7 linked regions of the Homo sapiens genome follow. The protein of the gene in region 5 purifies or fractionates together with the protein of the main gene of each other region. This does not show direct contact. Each region holds a gene or a part of one and is shown on either strand. Other genes may lie near its edges.

The links.
Region 1: the proteins of SLC17A2 (region 5) and DPY19L4 purify together in Homo sapiens (affinity purification with mass spectrometry; 2 studies listed by BioGRID and IntAct, with this or other methods). This does not show direct contact.
Region 2: the proteins of SLC17A2 (region 5) and SLC12A6 purify together in Homo sapiens (affinity purification with mass spectrometry; 2 studies listed by BioGRID and IntAct, with this or other methods). This does not show direct contact.
Region 3: the proteins of SLC17A2 (region 5) and SQLE purify together in Homo sapiens (affinity purification with mass spectrometry; 2 studies listed by BioGRID and IntAct, with this or other methods). This does not show direct contact.
Region 4: the proteins of SLC17A2 (region 5) and TAP2 purify together in Homo sapiens (affinity purification with mass spectrometry; 2 studies listed by BioGRID and IntAct, with this or other methods). This does not show direct contact.
Region 6: the proteins of SLC17A2 (region 5) and ANO10 purify together in Homo sapiens (affinity purification with mass spectrometry; 2 studies listed by BioGRID and IntAct, with this or other methods). This does not show direct contact.
Region 7: the proteins of SLC17A2 (region 5) and ABCD4 purify together in Homo sapiens (affinity purification with mass spectrometry; 2 studies listed by BioGRID and IntAct, with this or other methods). This does not show direct contact.

Annotation. Positions count from the first base shown.
Region 1 is NC_000008.11:94,726,236-94,730,006, forward strand, and holds part of DPY19L4 (probable C-mannosyltransferase DPY19L4), read left to right. Parts: intron 1-95; coding exon 96-206; intron 207-3,771. UniProt on the Homo sapiens protein: Probable C-mannosyltransferase that mediates C-mannosylation of tryptophan residues on target proteins.
Region 2 is NC_000015.10:34,334,712-34,338,955, forward strand, and holds the start of SLC12A6 (solute carrier family 12 member 6), read right to left. Parts: upstream 3,071-4,244; 5' UTR 2,621-3,070; intron 2,306-2,620; exon of another isoform or gene 2,042-2,305; 5' UTR 1,970-2,041; coding exon 1,699-1,969; intron 1-1,698.
Region 3 is NC_000008.11:125,018,988-125,022,758, forward strand, and holds the end of SQLE (squalene monooxygenase), read left to right. Parts: intron 1-1,796; coding exon 1,797-1,884; intron 1,885-2,765; coding exon 2,766-2,958; 3' UTR 2,959-3,296; downstream 3,297-3,771. UniProt on the Homo sapiens protein: Catalyzes the stereospecific oxidation of squalene to (S)-2,3-epoxysqualene, and is considered to be a rate-limiting enzyme in steroid biosynthesis.
Region 4 is NC_000006.12:32,835,750-32,840,279, forward strand, and holds the start of TAP2 (antigen peptide transporter 2), read right to left. Parts: upstream 2,991-4,530; 5' UTR 2,904-2,990; intron 2,489-2,903; 5' UTR 2,485-2,488; coding exon 1,992-2,484; intron 1,903-1,991; coding exon 1,788-1,902; intron 25-1,787; coding exon 1-24. UniProt on the Homo sapiens protein: ABC transporter associated with antigen processing. In complex with TAP1 mediates unidirectional translocation of peptide antigens from cytosol to endoplasmic reticulum (ER) for loading onto MHC class I (MHCI) molecules.
Region 5 is NC_000006.12:25,927,628-25,932,047, forward strand, and holds the start of SLC17A2 (sodium-dependent phosphate transport protein 3), read right to left. Parts: upstream 3,065-4,420; 5' UTR 2,650-3,064; intron 1-2,649. UniProt on the Homo sapiens protein: Acts as a membrane potential-dependent organic anion transporter, the transport requires a low concentration of chloride ions. Mediates chloride-dependent transport of urate. Can actively transport inorganic phosphate into cells via Na(+) cotransport.
Region 6 is NC_000003.12:43,615,255-43,619,025, forward strand, and holds part of ANO10 (anoctamin-10), read right to left. Parts: intron 1-3,771. UniProt on the Homo sapiens protein: Does not exhibit calcium-activated chloride channel (CaCC) activity. Can inhibit the activity of ANO1.
Region 7 is NC_000014.9:74,292,935-74,296,705, reverse strand, and holds part of ABCD4 (lysosomal cobalamin transporter ABCD4), read left to right. Parts: intron 1-256; coding exon 257-373; intron 374-726; coding exon 727-852; intron 853-1,507; coding exon 1,508-1,558; intron 1,559-3,457; coding exon 3,458-3,552; intron 3,553-3,771. UniProt on the Homo sapiens protein: Lysosomal membrane protein that transports cobalamin (Vitamin B12) from the lysosomal lumen to the cytosol in an ATP-dependent manner. Targeted by LMBRD1 lysosomal chaperone from the endoplasmic reticulum to the lysosomal membrane.

The sequences.
Region 1 (3,771 bases), on a different chromosome or scaffold from region 5:
TACTTTTGCTTTAGAATAATAAAGGTTAATTGGCTCAGGATACAGATTAAAACAATTTTATACACACATTGCAATAATGTCTTAAATATTTTAAGGACCACCTGTAGAGCTGCGCCAAAGAAAAAAGCCAAAGTCTTCAGAAAATAAGGAATCTGCCAAAGAAGAGAAAATCAGTGACATTCCAATTCCTGAAAGAGCTCCAAAACGTAAGTTAGATAGACTTGGAATTTGTGCTACTACAAAAATAGTTTACACTAGAAAGTATATTTTATGTCAATATTTTAAATATACATATTTTGAGATTAAGTATATGCTCAGCTTTCACTAGGTTTTGGACAACCCCCAAATCTCACTGGCTTATGACAAACATTTATTTCTAATTAATATTACATGTTGTGGCTGCAGTTTGGCTGTCGTAGTTTTATGTGTTGCGAAGGAATAGTCCGTATTTGGGAAAGATTTTTCTTGTGACGTAGGAAAAGAGGAGGCAGAATCATGCAATGTCTCTTAAAGTTTCTGCTGACCTGGCACACTATCACTTGTACGCACCTTTTATTGGCCAAAGCAAGTCATATAATCAATTCAGACGATGGGATGTGAAGTATACTTTGATTACAGGGAAGTGTTCCAGGTCACATGGTAGTGGGCAGGGATATATAAGATTTTTAAAGGGAAGGAGAAAATAGTTGTGAATAATAATATAGTTTACCACACCCTGTCCTTGTGATTTATTTCTCTCCCTCAGACAAAATACGCTTACTTTTTCCCACACCCGAAAACTCTCTCTTATCTAGTCACAGCCTTAATCTTGAACCCAAAGGCTTATCTACATCAGGGCCAGCTATGACTCATTCTAATCCAGAGATCTATGAACTAAAAAGACAGGTTATCTGTTTTATGTCGGGGGTTCCCCAGAACACCCCCATGTTTGGTTATTAGCTGGAAGGACTCACAAGTTTCAGAATGAAGTTGTATTTACAGCTATGATTGATTGATTGATTGATTGATTGATTTTTGAGACAGAGTCTCGCTCTGTCACCCAGGCTGGAGTGCAGTGGCACGATCTCAGCTCACTGCAACCTCCACCTTCTGGGTTCAAGCGATTGTCCTGCCTCAGCCTCCTCAGTAGCTGGAACTACAGGCACATGCCACCACGCCTGGCTAATTTTTGTATTTTTGGTAGAGACGGGGTTTCACCATGTTGGCCAGTCTGGTCTTGAACTCCTGACCTCAAGTGTTCCACCTGCCACAACCTCTCAAAGTGCTGAGATTATAGGCATAAGCCACCGTGCCCAGCCTACAGCTATGATTTATTATAGCAAATAATATAAAACAAAATCAGCAAAGGGAAAAGGCCTATTTTGGTGAAATCTGCAAGAAACCAGGCATAGGCTTCCAAATTTCCACTCCAACAGAGTCACACAGGATGGGCCTGATTCCTTCAGCATCAAATTGTGACATTTGTAAAGTTTTATCTACCAGGGAAGCTCATTAGTGACTCAGTGCTCAGGGTTTTTACTGGGGGCTGGTCATGTAGGTATCCTCTGCCTACCATGTCCCAAAATTCTTGACTCCCAGAAAGAAAGCATAAACTACATTGTTTGTACAAAGAGGATAGGCACTGTTATCAGTTAGAGAATGGTGGGAACTCTCCTGAAATTGAAGTTCCTAGATGCCAGCCAAGAGAGCCTACCTTGCAAGCAGGGCTTTCTTTTTTTCCTTTTTCTTTTTCTTTTTTTTTCTTGAGACAGAGTCTCACCCTGTCACCCAGGCAGGAGTGCCATGGTGCGGTCTCTGCTTACTGCAACCTCCATCTTCTGGGTTCAAGCAATTCTTGTGCCTCAGCCTCCCGAGTAGCTGGGATTATAGGCATGTGCCACCACACTTGGTTAATTTTTGTATTTTTAGTAGAAACGGGGTTTCACCATGTTGGCCAGGCTGGTCAACTCCTGACCTCAGGTGATCCGCCTGCAAGCAGGCCTTTCTCAGGAAAGCGGTCTCAGGCCTGCTGTGTTAACTCTTTTCTGCACATCCCCCCACTCTCAGTATACACTGTTGGACAGGGACAGGATATCCCCTTACTCTGGGATAAGGAATCTGTTGTGTTTATGCCCCAGTTGTGTTCCTGGGGAATTGTTTTCCAGTTCATTGTTTTCCATGGTCCTTGATTTTACACTCTAGAGATCTTTTCTCTTCCATTTTCCTCTATAACCATATCTAAAGATGGGTTTGGAGAATGTGTCATCCTTAAGGGCTAAACAGCTTTCTCAGATTGCTTGCTCTGCACTAAAAGTTGAGGCCTATATATAAATTTGCTCAAGATAAAAGCTGTGGGTAATCTACAAATCTAGGTGAGGGGCTGGCCGCAAGAAAACTATATTTGGGAGCTGGAAAAATGAAGATCTATATTATATCATGACAAAACATTTGATAATACTGTTTCCTGTGAACAGTTGACAATACTATTTTTTTCTATCATTTTAGGTAATGAGATTGCAAAACAGAATGTTACTAGAGTGCCTTTGTTATTAACATCTGCATTTGACTACAGGAAAGAGATCTGGGTTTAGAATAGAATTGGACTATTTGTAAGTGGGAATAAAGAAGAAAATAGAGAATCCCAAAATTCTGGGACTTGTAATGTTGAAGTGAGAACAGTTTATTAACCAGGCATGGTGGCTCGCGCCAGTAATCCCAGCACTTTGGGAAGCTGAGGCAGAGGATTGCTTGAGGTTAGGAGTTCAGGACCGTCCTGGACAACATAGTGAGACCCTGTCTTTATTTAAAGAAAAAAAAAAAAGAAAAAGCTGTTTGTCTTTTTCAACCAATGAAAGTTAAAATCAAGAAATGGGAGGCCAGGCACGGTGGCTTAAGCCTGTAATCCCAGCACTTTGGGAGGACGAGGCAGGTGGATCATGAGGTCAGGAGATCGAGACCATCCTGGCTAACATGGTGAAATCCCGTCTCTACTAAAAAAATACAAAAAATTAGCTGGGCATGGTGGCATGCAACTGTAGTCCCAGCTACTTGGGAGGCTGAGACAGGAGAATCGCTTGAACCTGGGAAGCGGAGGTCACAATGAGCCGAGATTGTGCCACTGCACTCCAGCCTGGGTGACAGAGTGAGACTCCGTCTTAAAACACACACACACACAAATTTAAACTTAGGCAATATAGTGAGACCTCATCTCTACAAAAAATCAGAAAAAAAAAAATCAGCCAAGTGTGGTGGTGTGCCCCTGTAGTCCCAGCTACTTGGGAGGCTGAGACACAAGAATTGCTTGAATTCAGGAGGTGGAGATTGCAGTGAGCCGAGAATGTGCCACTGCACTCCAGCCTGGGCAACAGAGGAGATTCCATCTCAAAAAAAAAAAAAAAAAAAAAAAATTTAAGCCTAGGCAATACAGTGAGACCTCATCTCCACAAAAAAATTAAAAAAAAAAAATTAGCTGAGAATGTGGTGGTTCATGCCTGTAGTCCCAGCTACTTGGGAGGCTGAGGTAGGAGGATTGCTTAAGCCTGAGAAGTGGTGTTTGCAGTGAGCCAGGATCACGCCACTGCACTCCAGCCTGGACGATGCAGCAAGACTCTGTCTCAAAAAACAAACAAACAAAAAAGTTAAAAAATTTGAAAAATACAACGTAAGAAAGAAAATTAAATAGTCTAGAAATATCGATTACAAAATAGTATTTCCTCCCCAACTACAAAAATATATTTTCAGGGTAGAAAATGTGGAAAGTAGAGAAAAAAAAACCAAAACTGCATCCATAAT
Region 2 (4,244 bases), on a different chromosome or scaffold from region 5:
ATATAGAGAACCAAGCTTTTAACATCTGTAACCACGTAAACAAACATAAATTTCACTTAGATATGTCCCCATTTTTACCCCTGTAGTCCCATTTTTACCCCTATAGTGTAAAAGGATACCACTTTAGACTGTAAAGAATGCTTAAGGGTAACGTAAGAACCGCAGACTGGACAAGGAACCTGTTCTGCTGGTCTAACACATTACTAAGTCCACTTTTCCAAAGAATAAAAATACAATTCTGTAACATGTAAGTCACAAGTCTAACAAACTAAACTATAAATTACCTAATGATAATTACAATATTAAGAAATTAACACTGGTATAGTCTTTACCTGGAATTTTTACAACCTAAATACAGCATGATGGATAAAAACTAAAACCACAATTTGGAATTAATTTGGAGGAAGAGGAAATGATAAATTTGTATTCCATACTGTAATTTTAATCCAGTGTATGACACACTGTAAAATTTGTCAAAAAGTTGAAAACAGTAAAGTCTGAGAACCAACCTATGTCTCCATAAAAGAAAAAATGATTAGTCAAGGATGAGTGAATTCTAGGACTGTAAACTTTACCAAATCTACCTTGTCTCCAGATACTAAAAACACAAACAGAATTAGGGAACTAAAATCATTCTGGTTTCCTGAACCCTTTAGGTTAAAAGGAACAATATTTCCTGACACCGGAAAATGGTGAGTAAGCCTTGCTTTCACAAGTCAGTGGGTGAGGCTATGGTTTTCAAACTTGGGTGGAATATTATTTTAAGAGTCTTTAAGGGAAATTTTTATCATTAAAAGATTACATTAGTTACAACACAGCATAAAACTAAATATATAAAGCAGTACAGGTCTCAAACTTTTAAATTTCAGAGTCCAAAAAATGTTATGATCTCCCCATTTTCTCTCTTCTCTCTCTTCCATCACCTCTTCCCAGTACCTCAAATAAAACCAAGCCAGCTGACACACACAAACTGGTTTAGGAAGCTAAAGGTCTGTAGCAGTCAACATGAGCCAGGAGTGGCTTGTGTGCTACCTGCTAACTCTAATCATCAGACTTTCCATCTAAAGCTCAGAGAGAATAAATTACATGGGAATCAGGCCCTAAAAGCCTTTTCAGAAGTCTTCCATTTGACAGAATAGCACATTAGGTCTACCCACCATCACCCTGAGTGGGCTTAGCTACTTGTGTCAAGGTCTCCATAAAAATACAGATTTCAAAAAAGAATTTTGCAATACACATTCGAAGTCTTGGAGGAAAGCTGCTAAGATACGACCAGTAACTACTCCATGAAACCAGTCTTAAAGCAGACTGAAATAGCCAATGATGGCTACAGAACACATATCCAACTCACTAAATTTTAAAATTTAGGATTCTGTGTGCTGAAAACGATTACATTCTTTGATATTCACTTTTAACCAAAATACCCATTTCATTTCTAAGAAGACAAAAATGAGGAAGTTAAAATATACATTTGCCTTCCTTCTTGTCATACACCTTCCCACATACCAAATTACTACTGCAAAGAGCCACTATGCTATTATTCCAAAGAGTTCCTAAGCATCTCACAAAGAGATGCCTTGGTTCCTGATGACTATTATAATCATAATTATATGATTATGATCTTCCAGATCCATAGATGGTCATCTTGGATAAAGAACCCAGTAATGAAAGTATGCTGCGGTCTGTGTTTCTACTTACCCTCGATGACATCCTGGGGGTGAGAAGTCCGGTCACTGGGTGGATCCAGTGCAACAGTTGCCAGCGAAGTGGTGGCCCCAGACATCTCACTCATAGGCTCACTCCGGCTTGTTTCAGGCACGCTTTCCCGGGAGCTAAATCTTACTCGGGAACTAGATCGAGAGCTGAGGTCCGGACTGGTGTCTGACAAACCTGGAATGTCATCGATCTTTGTCGGTGTCACCATGAACCGAACTGAAGCCATCTTGGTGGTGGTTTCTGGAGGATGCATTTTGTTCTTTTTAAGAACAAAAAAAGTGGGGGGAACCTCGCAAAATCTTCCTCTTACGCTAGCTACTTTTGACTGCAATACAAAAGATAACTTGAAAAATAACACATTTCAATAACCTTGATTCACACCACACAAAAAGCCCCAACTAAGAATACTTCTACTCAGAATTCAAGCCGACTGTCCTAGAAAGTGCATCACCAATAGGTGAATATATTTTTTAAGAGAGAAAAAAACAAAAAACAAAAAGACAAAACAATGCCAATCTTGTGTGACTTCTTTCCTTCAGAATGAAGAGCTACCTAGCTAACCCCTCTGGTCCGGGGCTGAAGGCTCAGTGCCATGGTCTCAGGGCAGCAGATGAAGCCTCCCTCCCCTCAGCCCCCAGTTTCCTGTCGAGGTAGTCCTTTATCTGGTGAGTGTCCCACGGTTCTAGTTGGGCGAAGTGCGTGCAGGCAAACCTTTATCAGGCGACTATAGCGTGGATCAGATTGCTAAAAGGTGTACACCCGGCCACCTGTTGTGTATCAGGTGAATACCCCACAGGTCTGGCTGGGGGGAGGTGTATGCAAAGCCACCCGGTGTTTTTGATGTCGACAATCCACTTGGGTCTGGTGGGAAAGGTGCACATGCATAACGGGAAAAATAACCCACACTACTGAGAGAAGGGTGAGCAGAGGAGGATGCAGGGGCAGAGCGGATTCCTGTCTCCGAGAGGTCGGTGGGGGTGGCGCGCCCGCTCTTCTCCTAGCAGAAAGGTCCTCGGGGTCTGGGAGGAGGTTAGCGGATCAAGACACCTCGGACTGCAGCTCAGAGTCGTGGCAAGTCGTAGCTAGTCCACTGAGCCACGGTCCGCTCGCTAGGTTTCTCCTGCGTGTGACAGGACGAGCCACCCCCTTTGCCGGAGGCGCGTTCTCCCCTACCCCCGCCCCGGCGCAGGTCACCCCCTCGTCGTTCTTCCTCAGGGTCCCAGTAGAGGAGGAGACGGCCACGCAGGCTGGCCTGACTGGGCAGCAGGGTGAGGGAGAAGGAGGTCGCAGGTGCAGTATCCCGGCGCCAGCTGATGCGGGTGCGCGCGCAGCTGTTGTTTACTAGCCGGTAACTGTTTCAGAGCCGCGGCGCGCGCAGGGTTCGCGCTGCCGGGGCTGGCGCCCCCTCCCCGGCCCGACGCCAGAGCAGCAGTTACGTGACCTGGCCTCCCCCAGCCCCGGGCCCGACGGGGTGCGCCCGCGCCGCCGCAGCCCTTCCCTTCCCTCCCCGCTTGTTCCTCATTCGAGGTGAACCTTGCGAAGAGAAGCCCGGGGGTGCAGTGAGAGGGCGGAACCGTCCCGCGGGCGCCCGAAAGCCCCGCCCAGCCGCCGCAGCCCGCGGTGACCGAGTGCAGCGCGCCTGCGCTCGCCGCGGGACACGGCAGGCGGGGCGGGGCCGAATACGAGTGGCCAGGGGCACGACGGGAGCTGTAGTCCAGGGCACGGCCCGACCCGCGTGAAGAGGGGAATAATCCTTTTCCTCGGTCCGGCTGTGCTGCACACTCACTCTGGAAGCATCCTAGAGGGCGGGCGCTGCTCCTCACCCTCAGAACCCGGGGAGCCATTTCTCTTTCATGAGTGTCTCTGAAAACATCATTCATGATTTCTTTAACCAGAAACACCGCTCCTATACCTGGGAATAACCCTCATTGTAATTTTTATGTAGAGGTCTACATACAAATAAACCACTTTTATGTAAAAAAAAAAAATTAAAACTATAAAGTAGGCCTGGCGCGGTGGTTCACGACTGTAATCCTAGCACTTTGGGAGGCTGAGGCGGGCGTGATCGATCACCTGAGCTCAGGAGTTCCAGACCAGCCTGGCCAGCATAGCGAAACCCCGTCTCTACCAAAAATTCAAAAATTAGCCGGGCGTGGTGGCGTGTGCCTGTAATCCCAGCTATTCCTTAGACTGAGGCAGGAGAATCGCTTGAGCTTGGGAGGCGGAGGTTGCAGTGAGCCGAGAACGCACCATTGCATTCCAGCCTGGGGGGACAAGAGCAAAACTCCGTCTCAAAGAAATAAATAAATAAAAATAAAACTATAAAGTACCTTAAACACATTTGTCCTACTTTAATTTTTTGTTGTTGTTCTTGTCCTTTTAATAAATGCTATGTCCACTTTCTAGTCAGACTGAAAGTTCCACTAAATAATACGTTTTTTTATACCTGGAGAAGACGTTGATGTATTTTCTCAAATCCATTCCATGTTTTCACCACTACATTTGTCGCTAGAATATTTTTTCTTAGT
Region 3 (3,771 bases), on a different chromosome or scaffold from region 5:
ACTAGATCATGCTTGTCCTCACACACACAAGACTGTGATGGAAGGTGTTTTTGGCCATGTATTAAAAGGCAATGTAGTCTTTTTCTTCCTAACACTAGTTTCAATTTCTTTTTAAAGTAGTATTTTATAAAATGAATACAAGCTGTTAATCTTGTCCCTGTTGAAAAGCACAAGTAACAATGCATTCACCCTTTACTTATTTGGATTATTTTGGTGCTTTTGTTACTGTTTCCATATTATACAGAGGTCACGGTCAATGTATATATTAGAGAAAACACAACTTAGCAGAAGCAGTGTTAGAAATGGAGGAAAAGAGGCCAGGCGAAATGATTCATGCCTGTAATCCCAGCACTTCAGGAGGCCAAGGCAGGAGGATCGCTTAAAGCCAGGAGTTTCACACCAACCTGGACAATAAAGCAAGACCCCATCTCTACAAAAAATTAAAAGATCAGCAAGGCATGGTGGCGTGTGCCTGTAGTCCCAGCTATTTGGGACTATATAGCTCACTACAGTGAGCTATATATAGTGAGCTATATGAAGTGCCACTGCACTCAGCCTGGGCAACAGAGTGAGACTTCATCTTCTAAAACAAACAAACAAAAAATTAAAAGAAATGGAGGAGAAAAGGCAACTGTGCCACCTCCTCACCACAGCAGTGTACACATCAGTTTAATAGTAGGTTAATGAAACTAGGCTTTTCAGTTTTCAAGAATAAATACTGACTCATATGCCACTACTCTAGTATATTTGCAACATAGCTATTTGTATGATCTGGCTGAGGCCCTAGTGATAAGTGCTGTGGTTATAATTACAAAAGATGATACAATAAAAATGCTTTCTGTAGCCTCTATAACCATTAACTCTTCCTAAGGAAAAAAAACAAAACAAAAACCCCACCAATCTCACTGGTTATGATTTTTCCAAACAAATTTCTCTTGCTAAATTGGCATAGAAGTTAAAATGGCTGGTTGGGCAAATGAAAGTAACTAAGTTTAGAGTTTTGGGCAAATAAAAAGAACTAAGTTTAGAGTTTTGGGCAAATAAAAAGAACTAAATTTAAGAGTTTTTCTGAGCTCTTCTTTCTAAGCTTTTCTAACTTCTTGAGTTCTTAACATTATGAATTTAAATCTACCAACAAAACAACATTTTTTAAAAGTTACAAGATTGGAGGAGGAAAGACCTTTATTGGAGCAAAAGTTTACCTGTTGCATCCTTTACTTTTTAAAATCTGTTGTAAAGAAAAATCTGGGCATACCTGAACAGAACATTGATTCTAAATGGTTAAAAAGGTTATCAATTGATTACACTACATTGTGAGGGTTTTATGAGTTACTTTGAAAGGTATTAAAAACTTTATAGATATAAGGAATTATTATTTATCGCTACTCACAGCTCTCTTCACTTGATAATTTACTGCTTAGTTAGAGATACTGGTTGGACATCTTAGAGACTGGGAATTTGGTTTCTAGAATTGTGTTAAAAAGAGCTTCCAAAGTATTTTGCATCACTTAATGAATTAACAGCAAAATCAAGGAAGTACCTTTTAAACAACTCTTCCAAGACCTAAATATTAGTAGTTATTTACTAACAGAAAAAAGTTTATTCATATTTATATTACTCTCCATAATGCTGATTATGGAATTCAGAAGAAATCCTGGTTGTTGAAATTCTAGGACTAGATATTTAAAAATTATCTGCAAGATGTAGCGTTTGTTATTTCTCATTTTTTCTGATATATCATTAGCATCCTACATAAGTGTGTACACATATTTGATTATTTTACAATTTTATTTTAGATTCCCTGCATCAACTAAGAAAAGCCTGTTTTCTTTATTTCAAACTTGGTGGCGAATGTGTTGCGGGTCCTGTTGGGCTGCTTTCTGTGTAAGTTGTGATGGCACAGAGGATACAAACCTGCCAGATTTTCTTAGGACTGTTCAGTTGATGAATTACTGCAAATCTTTCTTCCTTACACATTTTGATATTTTATTATCTGTTAGTATCCCAATGAGAAGGTGGCCCAAAGAAATGAAGAAACGCAATATTTAGTACTGTTTTCTTTCTAGGGAACAGCAGTTAAAGGTGGTGGTAGAGGAAGCTATAACCCTTGATTAAAATAGAAGCTTGTTTTTTGCCTATGGATTTATCCATATGTTCTGGTCTGTGGGAGCCAGGAATAATTGAGAAATTTTAATTTAAGAATTAGTTTCATTGAAGTACGGGGACTTATACAACCCAGTATTAGTTTTGAGCGTACAGACATATGTGGAACTATTCTTGGAAAGTCTACAAAGTGAAATCTATCGAGTTATTTCTCATTTGCAAAGTGATCCTTTGAGTCATTTCTCATAATCTATAATCTGAATGTTAATACTGATATTTTTAAAAGCCCTACATCCCAACAGACCAGGCCATCTAGATATTTCAGCGTGGTGTCTCAGGATGAGTAAACAAACAGCTAAAAATATATGACTTATGTAAACTAGAGTTACAGGAGTTACTAGCTTTTCTGAAAGGGATATATTCTAAGTATTTTTTCTTAAAAAAAAAAAAAGGGGGGTGGGGGGTTTGCTCCTGCCATCAAACTTAACATGCAGACATATTTGTGACGTCCTCTAAAATGTAGAATGTTTCATACAGAATTATGATGCTTGGGTAAAAAAAAGTAGGATGTTTGTTGAGCTTCGTAGATTATATGTAATTGGAACCTTTGGAGTAAATTTTAGTTTCTGAGTCTTACCAATATGTATTTTTTTCTATTACAGATTGTCTCCTAACCCTCTAGTTTTAATTGGACACTTCTTTGCTGTTGCAATCTATGCCGTGTATTTTTGCTTTAAGTCAGAACCTTGGATTACAAAACCTCGAGCCCTTCTCAGTAGTGGTGCTGTATTGTACAAAGCGTGTTCTGTAATATTTCCTCTAATTTACTCAGAAATGAAGTATATGGTTCATTAAGCTTAAAGGGGAACCATTTGTGAATGAATATTTGGAACTTACCAAGTCCTAAGAGACTTTTGGAAGAGGATATATATAGCATAGTACCATACCACTTATAAAGTGGAAACTCTTGGACCAAGATTTGGATTAATTTGTTTTTGAAGTTTTTTGTATATAAATATGTAAATACATGCTTTAATTTGCAATTTAAAATGAAGGGGTTAAATAAGTTAGACATTTAAAAGAAATGATTGTTACCATAAATTAGTGCTAATGCTGAGGAGAACTACAGTTTTTCTTTTGAATTTAGTATTTGAGATGAGTTGTTGGGACATGCAAATAAAATGAAGAATGAACTTTCGTGTCTTTTTGTTTCTTGTTGTGGGCTCGTTTACATAGCTTCATGATAATGAAAAAGAAAACCAAAGTGGGATGAAAAGTGCAGAGGGAAACCTGTTCTATTAAATAACTGGGGAAGTTGCCTTAATGTCTTGACCTTGATTTCCTCATCTATCCAGTGAAGCAATTTGATAAGGTTATTTTCTTTAAAAAAAATTACTTATTTATTTATTTATTTTATTTTGGGGCTGTGACTCAGATTTGAACCGAAAGGTTCTTTGCTGAGTTCTCTGAAAATATCAGATTCTGACAGGAAAGGCAATCAAGGGCTTTATAAGTTCCACTGTATAGCAACATTTATAAGGCAGCCCAGGATGACATCAAGAAACAGTGAGTGAACAAGTAAGCACTTGTAATACCCGGCATAATACCTTAAAATCCGTTAGGATTTACTGAGTTTATCTATAGTAAATTTGAAGAGACTATGGATGT
Region 4 (4,530 bases), 6.9 Mb from region 5:
CCTCGGCAGCCTGCAGACAGTGAGCTGTGGGGTAGGAGAATAAGAGGGGAGGGAGATGCAGAGAAGGAGCAAGCCAGCGGGTGAAACAGAGGAGCAAGCCAGGAGTGCAGAGAAGCGCAAAGTCAGGGGAAAGCATGCCAGGAGGGGCAAAAGAGAAAGAAATGAGAGACAGACACACAGAGAGAGAAGAGGTAAGGAATACACAGAGGAAGAAGAAAGAGGAGACATGGTGAGCTAGATGTGAGAACAAAATCATAACATGTACAAATTTACAAGTATTTATGGAGTGCACTCTGTACTAGACACAATAGAAAACTACAATAGAAGGGAAAAGATATTGTGAAAACAAGTATCCCAGTGCTTGCTTCTGTCCCAGCGTCCCTCAGGCTTGTCCCTCTGTGCGTCTCCTCCGCCTTGGTCTCCTTCCTGCCCCATACCCAAAGCCCTTCTCTGTCATCATAGATACTTCATCATGGGAACTGCAATAATAAATTCCCTGCCCCCACAATTCTCTGGAGCCCCAGAGTCATGTGATTCCCATCTTTCATCCTTCGAGTTGGAAAATCCCTCTTAGACCAACTACATGCTACAGTAACACTTAGAGGAAAAAATATAAAGCATAAAAGCATGTATTTTACAAAATATATGTTTCTAATACAAATTTAGTTACCATATTGAAGAGGCGTTTGGGAGAGTCAGACATGATATAATGAGGGTTTGTACTTTAATGACAGGGATGTGTTCTGAGAAATGTGTCGTTAGATGGTTTCATCGTTGTATGAACATCATAGAGTGTACTTACACAAACCTAGATGTCATAGCCTACTGCACACCTAGGCCATGTAGTTTAGCCTATTGCTCCTAGGCTACAAATCTGTACAACATATAACTGCACCTAACACTGTGGGCGACTGTAACACAGAAGTAAGTATTTGTGTATCTAAACATAGAAAAGGTACAGTAAAAATATGGTATTATAATCTTGTGGGTCCACCATCTTATATGTGGCCCATCATTGACCTAAACTTCGTTATGCAGTGCACGACTGTAGTTTCAGCAGAAAGCAGCCAGGATGGAATGAAGGCACAATGAAATGGTTTTCGAGGGTACTCTAAATTAAGTATGACCATAAAAATAGAGACAATCAGGCCGGCTGGGATTTGGGTAAGGTGAGTGCACACCTCCTTAAACTTTGCACCCCAGGTGCCTCGCTCACCTCATCCCAGTCCCAGCCTTATCAAACAGTTTGTTTGTTTGAGTATGTCTAGAAAGAGAAAGGAAAGCAAGTGAAGGGAAAAGAGTAATGATTCTGGAAAGAAAGGTGATAAGCCTCAGAGTAAGATCTTCAGGGACTGGCAAGATGAGCTGGGAAAGAAGAGTGAAAGGGAGAAGCATACCCATCCTGAGGGAGTGACCCTGGAGAGATACTTTGGAGACAGACTTAGGGGTAGGAGGTAGGAGGCAGAAAGAAATGGAATTTCATGGACCTAGGAATGTTGAGAGACAACTGAGAGACATTCCATCTGAGACTTAAATTCCTTTTGTACTACCTTCACTCATAACTTGTTCCTATAATAAGATCAGATAAACTTTGAAGATATTGGATGAATATGAACGAAGGAAGAAATGAATGGATAGATGAAACAGAATGGTGACTACATTCACCATATTTTAGTTTAAGTATTTTTGTGTTTTGCGCCTGAAAGGGCCTAGAAATGGAGTTAGGGAAGTGAAGACCCCTATAAAGATTTGGGGCTAGCAAATGGACCCAGCTGCCCACCACCTACCTGCCAAAGGAGAAGAGGCACATGAAGAAGATGGCACTGGCAAAGGCATGGGGGTCAAAATCACCTCCCAGGATGTCAATCACACGACCAGAATAGTGAGGGATTAATGTCTCACCTGAAAGAGGCATGAAAAATAACACAAGAATGTGCTGGTGCCCAGGCCCTTTTACCACCTCCAACTCACAACGTCCTCTCCTGACTCACCCAAAACAGCAAGGACAAGGAAGAAGAAGGCGGCAACGAGGAGAGGCAGGTCCGGCCTGGAGAGCTTCAGCAGCCTCCACATCAAGACTTTGTTGTTCACCTGGTCCTGCTCCTTCTCCTGGGCTCCAGGAGGGCTCAGAACAGCCCACAGTGACCAGCTGAGCCCCGCAGCCCCGTACCCCACCAGCAGCCAGCTCCAAGGGGCTGAAGCGACTCTGGCTGGGGGAGCACGTGAGGCCCCCGCGACCAGGGCTCTCAGGGAGACAGTCAGGGGGGTGGCCAGACAGAGCGGGAGCAGCAGTGTCCCCACAAATCCCAGCAGCCCTCTTAGCTTTAGCAGCCCCCACAGCCCTCCCAGCCGCAGGGTCCCCTCCAGCCATAGTCCTGGCAGCCCTTGAGGAAGCAAAGTCCCCAGAGGGCCCTGAAGCAGCCACAGTAAAGCCGCGTCCACCAGCAGCAGGGAGGTCCAGGGTCTCAGGTCAGGGAGCCGCATGGCTCTGTCAACGGATACGAGATGAGAAATCATGGGGGTGGAGTCCCAATCCTTGTCCCTGCCCTCCTACCCGCCCGGCTCCGCCTAACCCGTCCATCGGCTTCTCATTTTATCCTATTCAACCCTGAGAGCTCTCCTGAGTAACCGGTGCTCATCCGTACACCCCTCCTACGACAGACAGCTTTCGGCCTTCTGGGGAGCTGGAAGCATGACCATCAGGAGCCTCGTGCTTAAAAAAAAAAAAAAAAAATCCCCGGACCCCCACCCCCACCCCCGCCTGCCGCGGCGAGCTAAGTGGTCCGGGCTCCGCTCCCTCCTATCGCCGGGTGCAGAGGGACTGGGAAGCAGGAGCGTGGAGTGGGTAGTCACTTGGGCTGCGTCCCTGTTGGCGCTCCAGGTTCCCCTCCGCACCAACTCACCAGCCGCGGCGGGGAGACCGCAGCTCCGGGGACTTCTGCTTCAGCGCTGAGGTCCGCTCCGTCTCTCCCAACCTCGCTACCGGCTCTGGTCCGCCAGCTACGCTCGGCCAGGGCGGGCGTCAGGGCTCGGGCAGCTTTCGCTTTCGCTTCCCCAGCCAAGGCCTTCATTCTGGGCTGGGCCGCCGGGAGGGGGCGCGCGAGACCCGCAGACAGCGGAACTGGAGCCCGAACTCTGGTTCGCACTGTACAGGCCTGCAATGAGTCTCACTCGCCTTTAGTGGCGGTTACTCTGGGATATAAAACTGCAAAAATGTTTCTTTATCATTAAGTAAAATACAGTTGTCTCAAGGGCAACTTTATCTGTTGTCCTTGCTTTGTAATTGGAGAATGCTTTGTAATTGGAGAATCACTGAATTTTCTCAAAGTTACTACTTCAAGCTCTGAGCCTACTATTAAGAAGTGCCTTCTTTCTGGTCCGGCGCGGTGGCTCACGCCTGTAATCACAGCACTTTGGGAGGCCGAGGCGGGCGGATCGCCTGAGGTCAGGGGTTCGAGACCAGCCTGGCCAACATGGTGAAACCCTGTCTCTACTAAAAATACAAAAATTAGCCAGGGCGTGGTGGCGGACGCCTGTAATCCCAGCTACTCGGGAGGCTGAGGCAGGGGAATCGCTTGAACTCAGGAGGCAGAGGTTTCAGTGAGCCGAGATCGGGTCATTGCACTCCAGCCTGGGCGACAAGAGTGAGACTTCGTCTAAAAAAAAAAAAAGTGCCCTCTTCCATGCAAGCTCCAGTTTTAGGCGAGCGAGCCGGGCTCTCCTAAATAGAAGGTTCCAACCAATCTCACCAGGCCAAAGGGGATTTTCACGTACAGACTTTGAATTTAGTAGGCCCTGAGCGTTCATCTTCATCCGTCCTTCTCAGCCGGAGCACCTTGAGCTGGCGCGTGTTCAGGTGCCTCTGAGTCTGTACTCCAAATTATGTTGGGCGCACCTTCAGCCTATGAGGGAAATGCCCCGTACTGAGCTTTGGTTCTTGTTCTATTTTAACACTGTTTAGAACAGTAATTAGGTTTTTAAATATCCTTCCTGACCCAGAGCCTTCCTATGCAACAGAAAGATTCGTTTATTCCAGAAAGGACTCTTCAGATTGAAACCACCTCCCAAACTAAAAACAAACAAACAAACAAATTCCCCAAAGGAAGGGTCGCTTGGATTCCAGATCACCATTTTGAAATGTTACCTGTGTGACTACCAAGGAGTCACTTAAAGTTTAAAATAGTGGTGGTGGGGAGGAGGGATTTTAAGTAGGGGCTCGCTAAAGTTTTACAACTCTATTCATTCTGGCATTTTAAGAATCTCTCTCTAATGAAAAAAGCTCCATGCTCAAGCTCATGCTCCTACTTTCAAGCATTTGTTTCCTTTATTTTCTGGAAAGTGACATGGTCCATAGTTCCAGCATGATTCCGAAAATCTCATGATGTGTGTCTCTTTCTTCTAACCTGGATCTTTTACATTTTCCCCACACTCCTCACTTAGGGGAGTCCTCCTGATCTCTTCTTCCTCTAAAATTATAGTCCTGCCATCTTGCAATTCAGCATGACACATCATGAAATTAGACCCTTAATG
Region 5 (4,420 bases):
CAAGTATAGTTTTCTGCTTTCCAAATATCTCTAGAATTCTGGGAATAGTATCTCTCCATCTAAATTTTGAATTTTGGGTGTTTGGAGATTTTATTGTTGTTGTTGTTGTTGTTTTGTACAATGGACCCAAATGGAGGCCCAATTGCTAGTAAGATCAGGTCAGCACCAGGACAGATACTGGTTGTTGCTCTGCCTTAGAAGGCCTCCAAGTCTTGCTAACATCTGGATATCAGGAGTTCAGCTCATTGCTCTACACTCAGATCCTAGCTGAAGTCATCTGTGGTCAAACCCAGAGTTTGGACCATTTTCTATTTGATTTCACTTTTTATGCAAGATCCCGTGGCTTGGCTGAAGGCAACTCTTTAACTGTACATGCAGCTGCAATTACTTACACTCCACTTAAAGCTTTCCCACCAACTTCTCCAATCTTATAAACACTGAAAGCTGAAAGAGACTCAGAGATCCTCTGGCCCAACTGTTTATTTTATTGATAAGAAAATTTGCGTAGAAAATTTGAAAAGTTGCCTGAAACCACATGATGCACAGAGCCAGCACCAGATCCCCTAATGCCTAGACTACTGCTTGTTCTACCTATTACAACTTCCCCTTTGTTTTCGTAATATTTTAATCACAAGCTTAAAACTCAATGGGGTAGCTCCATTTTGAGGTATTATAAAGGAGAATTTGTATATTTTAAATCAAGTTTTAATCATTTATTCTAGAAGGAAGTTTGATAATGAAAAATACTTTTAGGTTGAGCTTTGAATATTAAACATAAACACAACAAAACTACTTCTCCTTGCTCTTTATGTTACTGGAATTGTATCACAAACCCATCACTTTAGTTTTTCTTCCCATTCTCTGTTGCTGTCTAACGAGAAAGGATGAAAAGCCCTACTTAAGTTTTATGGTTTCAAATGCTACTTTGATTTTGTATCAATAGGTAATTTCAGTTCTTCGTTTCCTATTTTCCTTTGCATGAGACGAATGCAGAAATCAGGCTAACATACCAAACCATCCTAAACTGAGGTCTTTCATGGTAATGGGAAATGTTTTTCCAAAATAAGCACAGAAGCTAATAAAATTATGGAGGCTGAACACTGGCATGGTTGATATGTACTTAGAGACACTGGAATAATTATTAACCTATTTGCAAACAATTGAGAACATGTAACAGTGTCAGAACCCTTCCCTTTAAGGAGATATACCTCTAAAAAAAAATTGTGAATTCTAGTGCCAAAGTTGTAAGTAGACACAGAAAAATGAATTGAAATTAAGTTAAAGGAAAATGTTATATTAAAAAAAATTACTTGACACAGTATAGGTTGAATTTGAGAAAAAAATAAATAATGTAAATATTATGGTATACGCATAAGCAAAAAAACAGGTTTTTCCCTTTTTTTAAGTCTAGAACTCATGATTTTATTATAATGGTCGTTAGATTGCTCTTAGATTCTCCTAATATCCAGCCTGTCTTGCTTCATCTCTGTTAGCCCAGAGTCCTAGTTTACTCAGAGTAAATGTTACACCTAGATCAAAGAGCATGAACCTGCAGTGGGAGGATATTCAAGGACTGAATTCTGCTCTGCCATTCCCAAATTGAGTAAACCAGGTAAAGTTTCAAAAACTCTTAGGGCTTTCACTGTTTCATAGGAAGAATTGGGATAATGTTACTTCACTGGGCAGTTTGGAGTGAAAACAAAAGTATGAGACATGCCTCGTAAATTGCAAAGTGTTATATGTTGTATAATATTCTAGATACTAGCAACAGCAATAATAATAAACAGTCACAATATTGGCAGTCTAGCCCTCTCAGATCCATAAATACAGGCCTACAGCAAATGAAATGTATTTCTATAAAAGTGCCTTTGATTGGTTGTTAAATTGGTTTTAAATGTTTCTTTTTTAAAGTGGATTCTTCTGGCCTGGAATCCTCAAGATGAGTGGGGAGGAGTTCACCAGAAAACATAGAAGCAATTCCTTCAGTGTTAGAAAAACTGAGGGCCCTCTCATCATCTGCCTATCTTTCTGAGAAATTGGTGCTGACCACAATGTCCCTGGGTGCCTTTTCTTAGCTGTACAATGAGGGCAACAAGCTAGGTGATCTCTACAAGCGTACAATTTTCTTGCCTTCAGTCTTATTCATAACTTTGGTCATGTTCTCCTTTTCTTTTATTATTATTATTTTTTTGAGACAGAGTCTTACTCTGTCACCTAGGCTGGAGTGCAGTGGTATGATCTCAACTACTGCAACCTCTACGTCCTGGGTTCAAGCAATTCTCCTGCCTCAGCCTTCTGAATAGCTGGCACGCGCACTATGCATGCGCATAGGTGCACGCGCCGCTACGCCCTGCTAATTTTTGTATTTTTAGTGGAGACAGGGTTTCACCATGTTGGCCAGGCTGGTCTCAAACTCCTGACCTCAAGTGATCTGCCCGCCTCAGCCTGCCAAAGTGCTGGGATTACAGGCGTGAGCCACCAGGCCCGGCCATGTTCTCCTTTTCCTGAGAGACCATTTCAAATTCATATAGAAGTCTGAAAAGACTCGTTAGCCACAGTCCCAAACACAAATCTTGTCAGTTCTGATCAGTATTTCATTCCACAGCCAATCCCAGTCTGACTAATCACAGCATCACAGTTAATACTCACAGCGTCCTTGGAGAAATGACCATTGTCCACAGTGTCCATTGGTACCAGTGGCTTCTCAAGCCTTGCCCTAGGGTCTTCATTGAATCAGTTATCTTTTTCAGAGAGTCTCTTCATTTTGGAATTAGGCAATATTACCAGATGGAGATCCTTATGTTGCTGTTAATGTCTTTTCTCTGACTTCTCCTAAAACTGTTCCCTCCCCTTAATGGACCTTTGGTAAGTTAGTAATAATCCTTCTACCCAAAAAGAAGAAAAGCACTTACCTTCACCATTAAACCAGTATTTTAAGCCCTAGACTATAAGGCTAACTTGGAAAAGGAGGGAGTTTTCTGTCCCTTCTTCCCTTTCAAATACTTTTGCAGATTTTTACAGGGATAAATAGTGAGCCACGTGGCAGTCAGACGGCAACAGGTTTGGCCCCACTTTCTCAGAAAGCCTCGGCTTGGTTTTGCCGCTTAATTTTTAACTTCATTTTCAAGTTCTCACTGTTAGAGTATCTCAAAAGATGTCATCGTGTGTTTCTGCTTTGAACTGTGCATACAACCATTCAGTCAACAAGCCTTTTTTTCTGAAAGCAAGGGGGCATGGTGTGGAGGAAAGGGCAGGGCTCCTGAAATCAGTGATGGAGTCAGACCCATATTCACTTCCTAGTGTTTTCCCTGAGCTTGGACAAGTCACTGAACCTCTTTGAATTGGCTTCCGCTTTAGTAAAGCAAGGATTGTGTTACTGTACTCATGGGGTTATTGAACAAATGAAATACATATTCTAATTGGTAGTAGCTCCTCAATAAATGAGGTGTTCATTCCTCTTCAGGAGTTCAGTTAAGTCAGCTAGATTTTCCATATGCATTTGGTGCCCACAGCCTAATGAATGTGAACTGTGACTGCCCTGGCAACTTCCCAGGAAGCTGCCTTGTACCCCTCCTTCCTGTTTCATATCATCCATGTCTTCCCTAATCCATTTTCTGCTTGGCTCCCGACTCTTGGAATTGTGTCCTATTTGTAATCATTAATTTTGAGACTGTGGTTGCTATTGGATCTTCCTAGTGTGACGCAACCCTTATAAAATGAAATGAGAGCCTTCCCTCTCTGGCTTATCAGCTTCAGACTTCCTTAATTGAGTTCCGCCATCCTAGTGAGTCTCACCATACTCCCGAAATAACCTGCTGGAGTAGGCTTATCCTACTCAACTCCTCAGATCTCTGTATTTAATTCTATTTTATTGCTGTTGTAGTAAATTACCACAACTGTGATGGCTTGAAACAACACAAAATTATTTATTTATTTACAATTCTAAAGGTCAGAAGTCCAAAATGGGTTTCACTGAGCCAAAATCAAGGTATTGGCAAGGTTGTGCCCCCTCCAGAGGCTTTAGGGGAAAATCCATTTCTTTTTCTTTTCAGCTTGTAGTGACCACTGCATTTTTTGGCTCTTGGCCTTTCCTCCACCTTAAAGCCAGCAGTGTAACATCTTGAAGTATTTTTCTCTTATTCTGACTCTTCTGCCTGTCTCTTATAAGGACCCTTGTGATTACACTAGGGCCCATCTGCAAAATTCAGGAAAATCTGCCCATCTCAAAATTCTTAACTTATTAAACATGTAAAGTCCCTTTTGTCATATAAGGTAATATATTTACAGGTTCTGGGGATTAGGACATGGATATCTTTGGAGGACAACATTCAGCCTACCCTTTTGAGGGATAGAGGGGTAGCAGGAAGAGTTGAAACAATTCCTTCCTTTCTTTATTTAAAAATTCTGGTTATTGATTTAT
Region 6 (3,771 bases), on a different chromosome or scaffold from region 5:
ATAGACTGTCCAATATCTTGCAGTAGCAAACAGGGGAGCTGGGACTCACAACCAGACAGCCTGACACCAAAGTCCACATCCTGAAGCATGTGTATATGCACACATCAAGCTATTGTGTGTGTGTGTGTCTGTTTACGTGAATAAAAGCTGCATCAATGGCTACTCAGATATATTTCTCCAAGTTGTTCTTCCTAGGTAGTAGCATTTGGGATAATTTTTATTTTATTATTTACTTTTTTTAATTTGATTTTTAATGAGTGGGTATTTTTTATAATCAGAAAAAAAGTGGCTCTATATTTGTAAAATAGTATAGAAGCCTCACATTTTCAACAGCAAATGTAAAATACACACTTCAGTTAAAGCCAAATTTCATATATATATGTGTATATATTTTTTGTTTTTTGTTTTTTTTTTCTTGAGACGGAGTCTCATTCTGCTGCCCAGGCTGGAGTGCAGTGGCGCAATCTCGGCTCACTGCAACCTCCGCCTCCTGGGTTCAAGCGATTCTCCTGCCTCAGCCTCCCGAGTAGCTGGGACTACAGGGGCATGCCACCACGCCCAGCTAAGTTTTTGTATTTTTAGTAGAGACAGGGTTTCACCGTGTTAGCCAGGATGGTCTCGATCTCCTGACCTTGTGATCCGCCCGCCTCGGCCTCCAAAAGTGCTGGGATTACAGGTGTGAGCCACCGCGCCCGGCTACCAAATGGCATTTTTTAACTATATGATACAAGATATTTTGCTTTTCTTCACCAGATTAAAAGCATGCCAACCTTATATAAAAGCTACCTAGATTTAAAATGTGGTTTGTTCTGAGGAAAGGTCACATACTCAACAGTATGTGAAATAAAAGGATCCGTACATAAGCATATCATCTTCCATCCCGCACCTATCCAGGAGACTGCAAAGCTTCAGAGAGCTGGACAATGATAGACTCTTTAAGAGGGGAAGGAATCTTAGAGATCAGTTAAGCCCTCGCTATCATGTTACTCAGAAAGCCCTCGCTATCATGTTACTCAGACCCAAAGTCACACCACCGGTGTGGCAGAAGCAGAACTGGAATCCAATGCTCTTTGAACAACACCATGCCATCAGAAGACAACCTTTTGTTTTTTTCTTTTTGTGAACTTACCAGCCAATAAAGTCAAAGCCCATATTATGCCCTCATCATCAAAAAATAACACTAGCCTTGCTACAATCATGCAGGTGCATGCTGCAGCTCAATAATAACCTCAAGACCAATACAAGTGCTGGCATTGCCTGGATTCTGCTTTAAGCAATGAGAATCATGTAGGTAGAGGGAAGACAGGCTGCTGGGCTTTTTTAGTGCAAGCTGGTAAGCCTAGCCCCTTTAAGGCTCCAGGACATAAGATGCTCTTGGAGCTTTGAACACTGCAGTGACACGGTCCACAGTAAGAACCAGCTCTGCTCCTCTTGTGCCCATTTTCAGTCACTCTACACTTGTGCCAGCCGTTATGCCACAGTGCACATACAGGCCAGCTTACTTAAGCTGTCTCTTCTTTCTGTCCCTGAAGTTCCATCCAGGGGTGCTCTCTGCTCAGGAAATGTCTGTCCCCATATGGTAATCCCACCTGGGTAGGTCCACTCCTCAGGGAATTGCCTGTATAGTAAAACCTCTGGGGATCCCCTCTCTTTGGGTTATTCCTGCCCCTCTCTGTGTTTTTTCATGCAGCAGGGTTATGGATGTGACAGACTTTCATCTTGCAGTTCCCTGGCCAGGCTTGCTCCAGTCTCTCTTCTCTAATTAGCTGGCTCAATGACGTAAATATCAAGTGTAAGGTGTAAAGCGGTGGAAACAAGAAGCCTCATGGCAGCCTTGGCCTAAACTGAGTTCTGGAATCTACTTTTACCAGAGGGTCTTAATGGGAACTTGCTCTACCATTACCAAGCATACGAGATGAAAAAATGGAAACAAAATACCAGACAGGGACATGAAGGCTTTAAGTCTTCCTGCAGGTGTAGCACAAACCTTATGGTTCCAGTTGGGGCCAATCTAAAAACAATGATTTGACCATACAGACTTCCTGGGCACCAGAGGGTAGAATGATTTCTGTATTGCAGCCAATATCCTCCTTTGATCGGGACTCTCAGCCAGGACAGCAGCCAGGCTGATTATAAGGCACAGAGCAGCCAGGTTCCACACAGACCCTGGGGCGTGGGATTATGAGACAGCGATCCCAAATTGTGTTCTTTATCATGTGTCGAATTGCACACAGGGTCAAAGAGAGACCTACAAATAAGTTAAATTCATGTGGCTTTTACATTAACAACTGGATCACTGGCCCACAAGAGGTAAAGTCTGACCATTGTGGTCAAGATGTAGAGAAACACACTGTGAGTTCACCATGGAGAGGTCAGGGGAGTGTGTGGAGAGTGGGGAGTTATTTTAACAAGGATCAGGAAAAGAATAATGGATTCTTTATTCTGGGGATTATTCTTTTCCTGAATTTGGGTAAAGAAAAAAAAAGTCAATGGAATTATCACAAACTCAAAGGTTAAGAAGGAAATGCATAACACTGTCTTCAGGAATCACCTTATTCCAGATTCAAAGAGAAACAGGAACGAAAAGTATTCTCAGTTATGAAGCAGATTAGGAAACACTTCAGTAAGAGAAAAATGAAGGACCGCACTGCTCAAGCTGGAAGATGAGAGGAATCTCCATAGGACAAAAGTTGCAATTTTAATGGCCAGGCTAAAAGAGGGCCAGGCCAACTCCAGAGGACCCGAGATGCAGAGACACTACTTACCTACAGGCAGGCAGTTAATGGTGAGAGCAATTGTGGGAGCCTCCCTCCTTGTACCTAGGGCAGCTGCCTTGGGGAGTTACACAGATGTAGACAGACGTGAGAATGGAGAATCAGCCCCGCATACACCCATCCTTACTATAACAGTTTCTCAGTAACACAGATAACTTAGGGAAGCTGGTGAGGACCACTCCCTGAGGGAACTCCATGCCCTTAAGATTCCACAGGAAGGTACAGGAGAGGTGAGACACAGGATACTGAAGACAGTCCTGCCACAACAGCCCAGGCCGGATTAGATGCTGCACTAACCTCTGCACACAATCACTCAACTGAGTCTAGCCATGGAAGCACCAGTGAGGAAAACAAGAATATTTCCTCCTCTCACTCATGCCTCCATCTACTCTCATTACCCCAGATACTGCCAAGAGTTTGCTTGTTTTGGCTAGAATAATGTCAGAAATATACTGTGGCATCTCAGTAGAAATGCTCTAGAGGCTGTGAGGTGGCCCTGGGCTGAAGAAGTTCCCAAGACACAGACCTTTAAAACTGGGACAAGTTGATCACACTTGGTAAAGAGTAAAGGCCATTACTCTTTCCTCCAAAAGACCCAGGGACTGGAGTCAGCATCTGGCACTCTGTTTTTGAAAGATTCCCACTGCCAATTCATAGACTAATAAAAGAGATAATAAGCATGGATTACTCAGATCATGCTTTCTAGTCTGTAACTCCCAGAAGATTTAGAAATGGCATATAAAAGTAATTAAAAGGCACCTTATTAGTTATACGTCTTTTTTTTTTTCTTTGAGGCAGAGTCTCGCTCTGTCGCCCAGGCTGGAGTGCAGTGGAGCAATCTCTGCTCACTGCAAGCTCCGCCTCCCGGGTTCACGCCATTCTCCTGCCTCAGCCTCCCGAGTAGCTGGAACTACAGGCATCCGCCACCATGCTCGGCTAATTTTTTTTTGTATTTTTAGTGGAGACGGGGTTTCACCGTGTTAGCCAAGATGGTCTT
Region 7 (3,771 bases), on a different chromosome or scaffold from region 5:
TGGACCTTTCAGTTCCCACTTTTTCAGGGGATTAACTAAGGCACCGTAAGATGCAACTCTCTAGAACCCTGTTTAAAGGCCCTGGGATTTAGTTGCCCCTAGGAAACCAGCCTTGTCTGGTTCCCTCTTCCCATAGGGTCAGTGTTCACAGCACTGTGAGGCAAGGTCAAGAGCAGAGGTGATGTGAAAGTTTCTTGTTCTCTCTACCTTTGGGCCCATCTCCCTGGGTCCAGCTACTCTGTGTCATTGGCTCCAGGGACCAGCGCATCAGCCAGGACGTGGAGCGATTCTGCCGGCAGCTCAGCAGCATGGCCAGCAAGCTCATCATCTCCCCGTTCACCCTCGTCTACTACACTTACCAGTGCTTCCAAAGGTGAAGCCTCCCTCCTCCCCAGCCTGGTGTTTCCCCAGAGGGCCCTCAGTCAGCTCTCCCAGGTCAAGGTCCAAGAGAAGCTTATTTCCCCTCTCTCCCACCGTACCTTACCACGTGCTCACCCATCCCACGTGCTCAGGCCCCTGCCCTTCCTTTGGCCCTGTGTTGCAGTGTCACAGATATCCTGGCTCTGAGAGCTCATACCAGATGCCCCCACATAGGAGCAGAGGGCCCATTGGGCCACTCAGATTGGACAGGGGCTACCTGAGAGGGAACAGGAGTCAGGGCTGAGGCATGTGGGGATAGGTGGCACCCCACACCCTCTCCCTTCTCTCCCTCTCTCTCTATTTCAGCACAGGCTGGCTCGGGCCTGTGAGCATCTTCGGGTATTTCATCCTGGGGACCGTGGTGAACAAAACTTTGATGGGCCCCATTGTGATGAAGCTGGTGCATCAGGAGAAGCTGGAGGGAGATTTTAGGTGTGTCTCCCTCACTTGAGGTTTCTGGGCTGGGGCATAATAGTTAAGGAAGGGGATCTGGAGTAAAACTGCCTAAGTTCAAATCCTAGCTGTGCCAGTTACTAGCTGTGTGATCTTGGAGAGGTCTTTAACCTCTCCAAGCTTCAATGTTCTTGTCTCTAAAGTGGAAATGGTACCGTTGCCTACTGAGAGGATTAGGAGGATTAATGAAATCATACCTGAGAAGGTCTGAGAACCGTGTCTGCCTGGCCATCACCATCGTCATTGTCATCTCTTGGCCTTCTCACTGCCCTGGCATAACCGCCCTGTCTTGGATCAGTTGGGTGTGGCAGCCAATGGATCCAGTGCCTGCCCTGTGCTTCTTGTCCCCCTCCTTTGGGCCAGGCCCTGGGAGGAGGAGATGCTGTGAGCAGGAATACCCCTGTCCTCTCTGCAGAAAGCTGAGGGGCAGCCCTGTCTCTGCAGAGCTCCTGCCACACCACCTAGCCCTGGGGTTTTCTACCCCATAACAGTCCAGGAAAGGGTCAGACTGAGGCAGCCACGGTTTTGAGGCAGAGCCGGGCTCCGCTTGGGCGGTCTTTGTGATCCAGGACTCCAACAAGAGTGAGGCCAGTACTCCCTGTTGTCAGCACACATTTCCCTTTGGTCCGCCCAGGTTCAAGCACATGCAGATTCGGGTGAATGCGGAGCCTGCTGCTTTCTACAGGTGAGTCTGGAGAGATGGTTCCCCTTCTGCCTTGCCAGAGCTGAGAGTGGAGAAGGAAAGATGAATCCTCAACCCTCCCACCACCACCGAGCTCAGGGGCTGAGTGTTGTCACACTTGGCTGTGACCCTCTCCCTCTACCTCCCCCTGCCCTTGCCTGCCTCATCCTTAGGTCCAGGGGTTTGCTTCTGAAGCTGGTGGTTCCTTACTGTGGCCAGCTTTAGTCTTAGTGGCCTAGCGTGGGGCCTGAAATTGTCAAATGAATGAATGCCTCATCCTCTTGCTGGTGACTGTAAGACATCCGTCTGCCTCTGCTCTTCTGTCTGTTAAGAAGCTTTCTTGCCAGTGCCTGAGGTTCAAGCCTGATCCTTTGTCTCCGTAGCGTGGGATGGAATGGGAGCTTCTCAGAAAACCAGGAGACCTGCTCCCCACAATGCTGTCTAATGGAGCCAAGCGTCTGGTCTCCTGACGGCAGCAGCAGGAGCAGCAGCAGCGGCATGAAATCCCATCCCTTCCCTCCAGGGCCAGAACCGGTCCCTGTGCTCTGCCTTATGTGAGGCCTCTGAAATCAGCGTTAGGATTGATAGTGCAGGCAGAGGTTTGCGTTTAAGAAGTGGAAGCTACTCCTTGGCTCTGTACTTGGGGTGGATGTGATAGCCCTGGGACCTTTGCTCCTCAGTCTCTGCTGCAGTTTGCAACCTCCACCACTTGAGGGCACCAAGAATACTGGGAATCTGCGCTGGGGTGGGGTTGTGAGGTGGGCAGGGCTGGGTGTGTAAAAAAGTTGCTTTTGGAGGCCGGGCATGGTGGCTCATGCCTGTAATCCCAGCACTTTGGGAGGCCGAGGCGGGTGGATTGCCTGAGGTCAAGAGTTCGAGACCAGCCATGGCCAACATGGTGAAACCCTGTCTCTACTAAAAATACAAAAAATTAGCTGAGCATGGTGGCGGGCACCTGTAATCCCAGCTACTGGGGAGGCTGAGGCAGGAGAATCACTTGAATCCGGGAGGCAGAGGTTGCAGTAAGGCAAGATCCTGCCATTGCACTCCAGCCTGGGTGACAGAGCAAGACTCCGTCTCAAAAAAAAAAAAAGAAAAAAGTTGCTTTTGGATTCTGCAGCCTCTGCTCATGAAGCTCTGGGGAAGGCAGGTTAGTTTGTAGAGTTTCAGATGAGTTCTTCTGTGGCCTCTGTGCAAAATCTGAAATCTCCCTCCACCTTTTCTGCCTAGCGAATTTCTTCCCATCCTTGAAACCCCAGATCACCTCCTCTGGAGAGCCTTCCCAGACTCCCTTAATGGCTAAGCCTATCTGCTGCCATGGCCCTGAGGGCACACTTAGTACTCCTGATTCCAAGTGAAGAATGCAGTGTGCCTGCCTGCCCTCTGGACTGAGAGCTCCTCAAAGACAGAGATAATTTTCTCATTTCTTTATTGCACTAGCTAACTAGTGCAATGCCTGGTACACCTAGTGACCGCTCTGTGTATGTTTATTTAACAATAGTTTTTATTTATTGAGGGCTCCTTATGTGCTTGGCACTTTATATTTAGAAACTTTTAATTCTAACTCTAACCTATTACATAGGTATTATTGGCTCCATTTTATAGATTAAAAAAACTGAGGCTTGGAGGCTTAAGTAGCCTGCCTGTGTCACGCAGCTAGTAACTGGCCAGAGCCAGGATTTGAACTAGGTCTGCCCAACTCTAGAGTTTATGTTCTTCACACAGACAATACCATTAAGGCATGACTGAAGCCGTGAATGGGCGCTACCAGTAGACAGATCCTGAGACCAAGATCATTTGAATGGCCTTGGTTTCTAAAGGAGGGTGTGATATGGGACAGGCGGCCCCCCAACCTGGCTGAACCTCTCCAGCCCTGTGGACATCCCAGCCTTTCCTTGTCAGAGCTGGGCATGTGGAGCACATGAGGACAGACCGCAGGCTGCAGAGACTCCTTCAGACCCAGAGGGAGCTGATGTCCAAGGAGCTCTGGCTGTACAGTAGGCGAGGGGGCCCAGGGAAGTGGGAACCATGGGGTTGGACTGGTCTGCTTCCCTTCCCACACCTCTCTACCTCCTGTCTGCAAGGATAAATGTGCCATGATGAAGGAATTAACCGGGGATGAGGAGGGGGGGCTGTTGCCTTTCTGTGAGTATCCTCAGGAGAATGAGGATCCAGAGAGTCCACGTGGCCCTACTTGGCGTCCTGCTCCCTGTCTT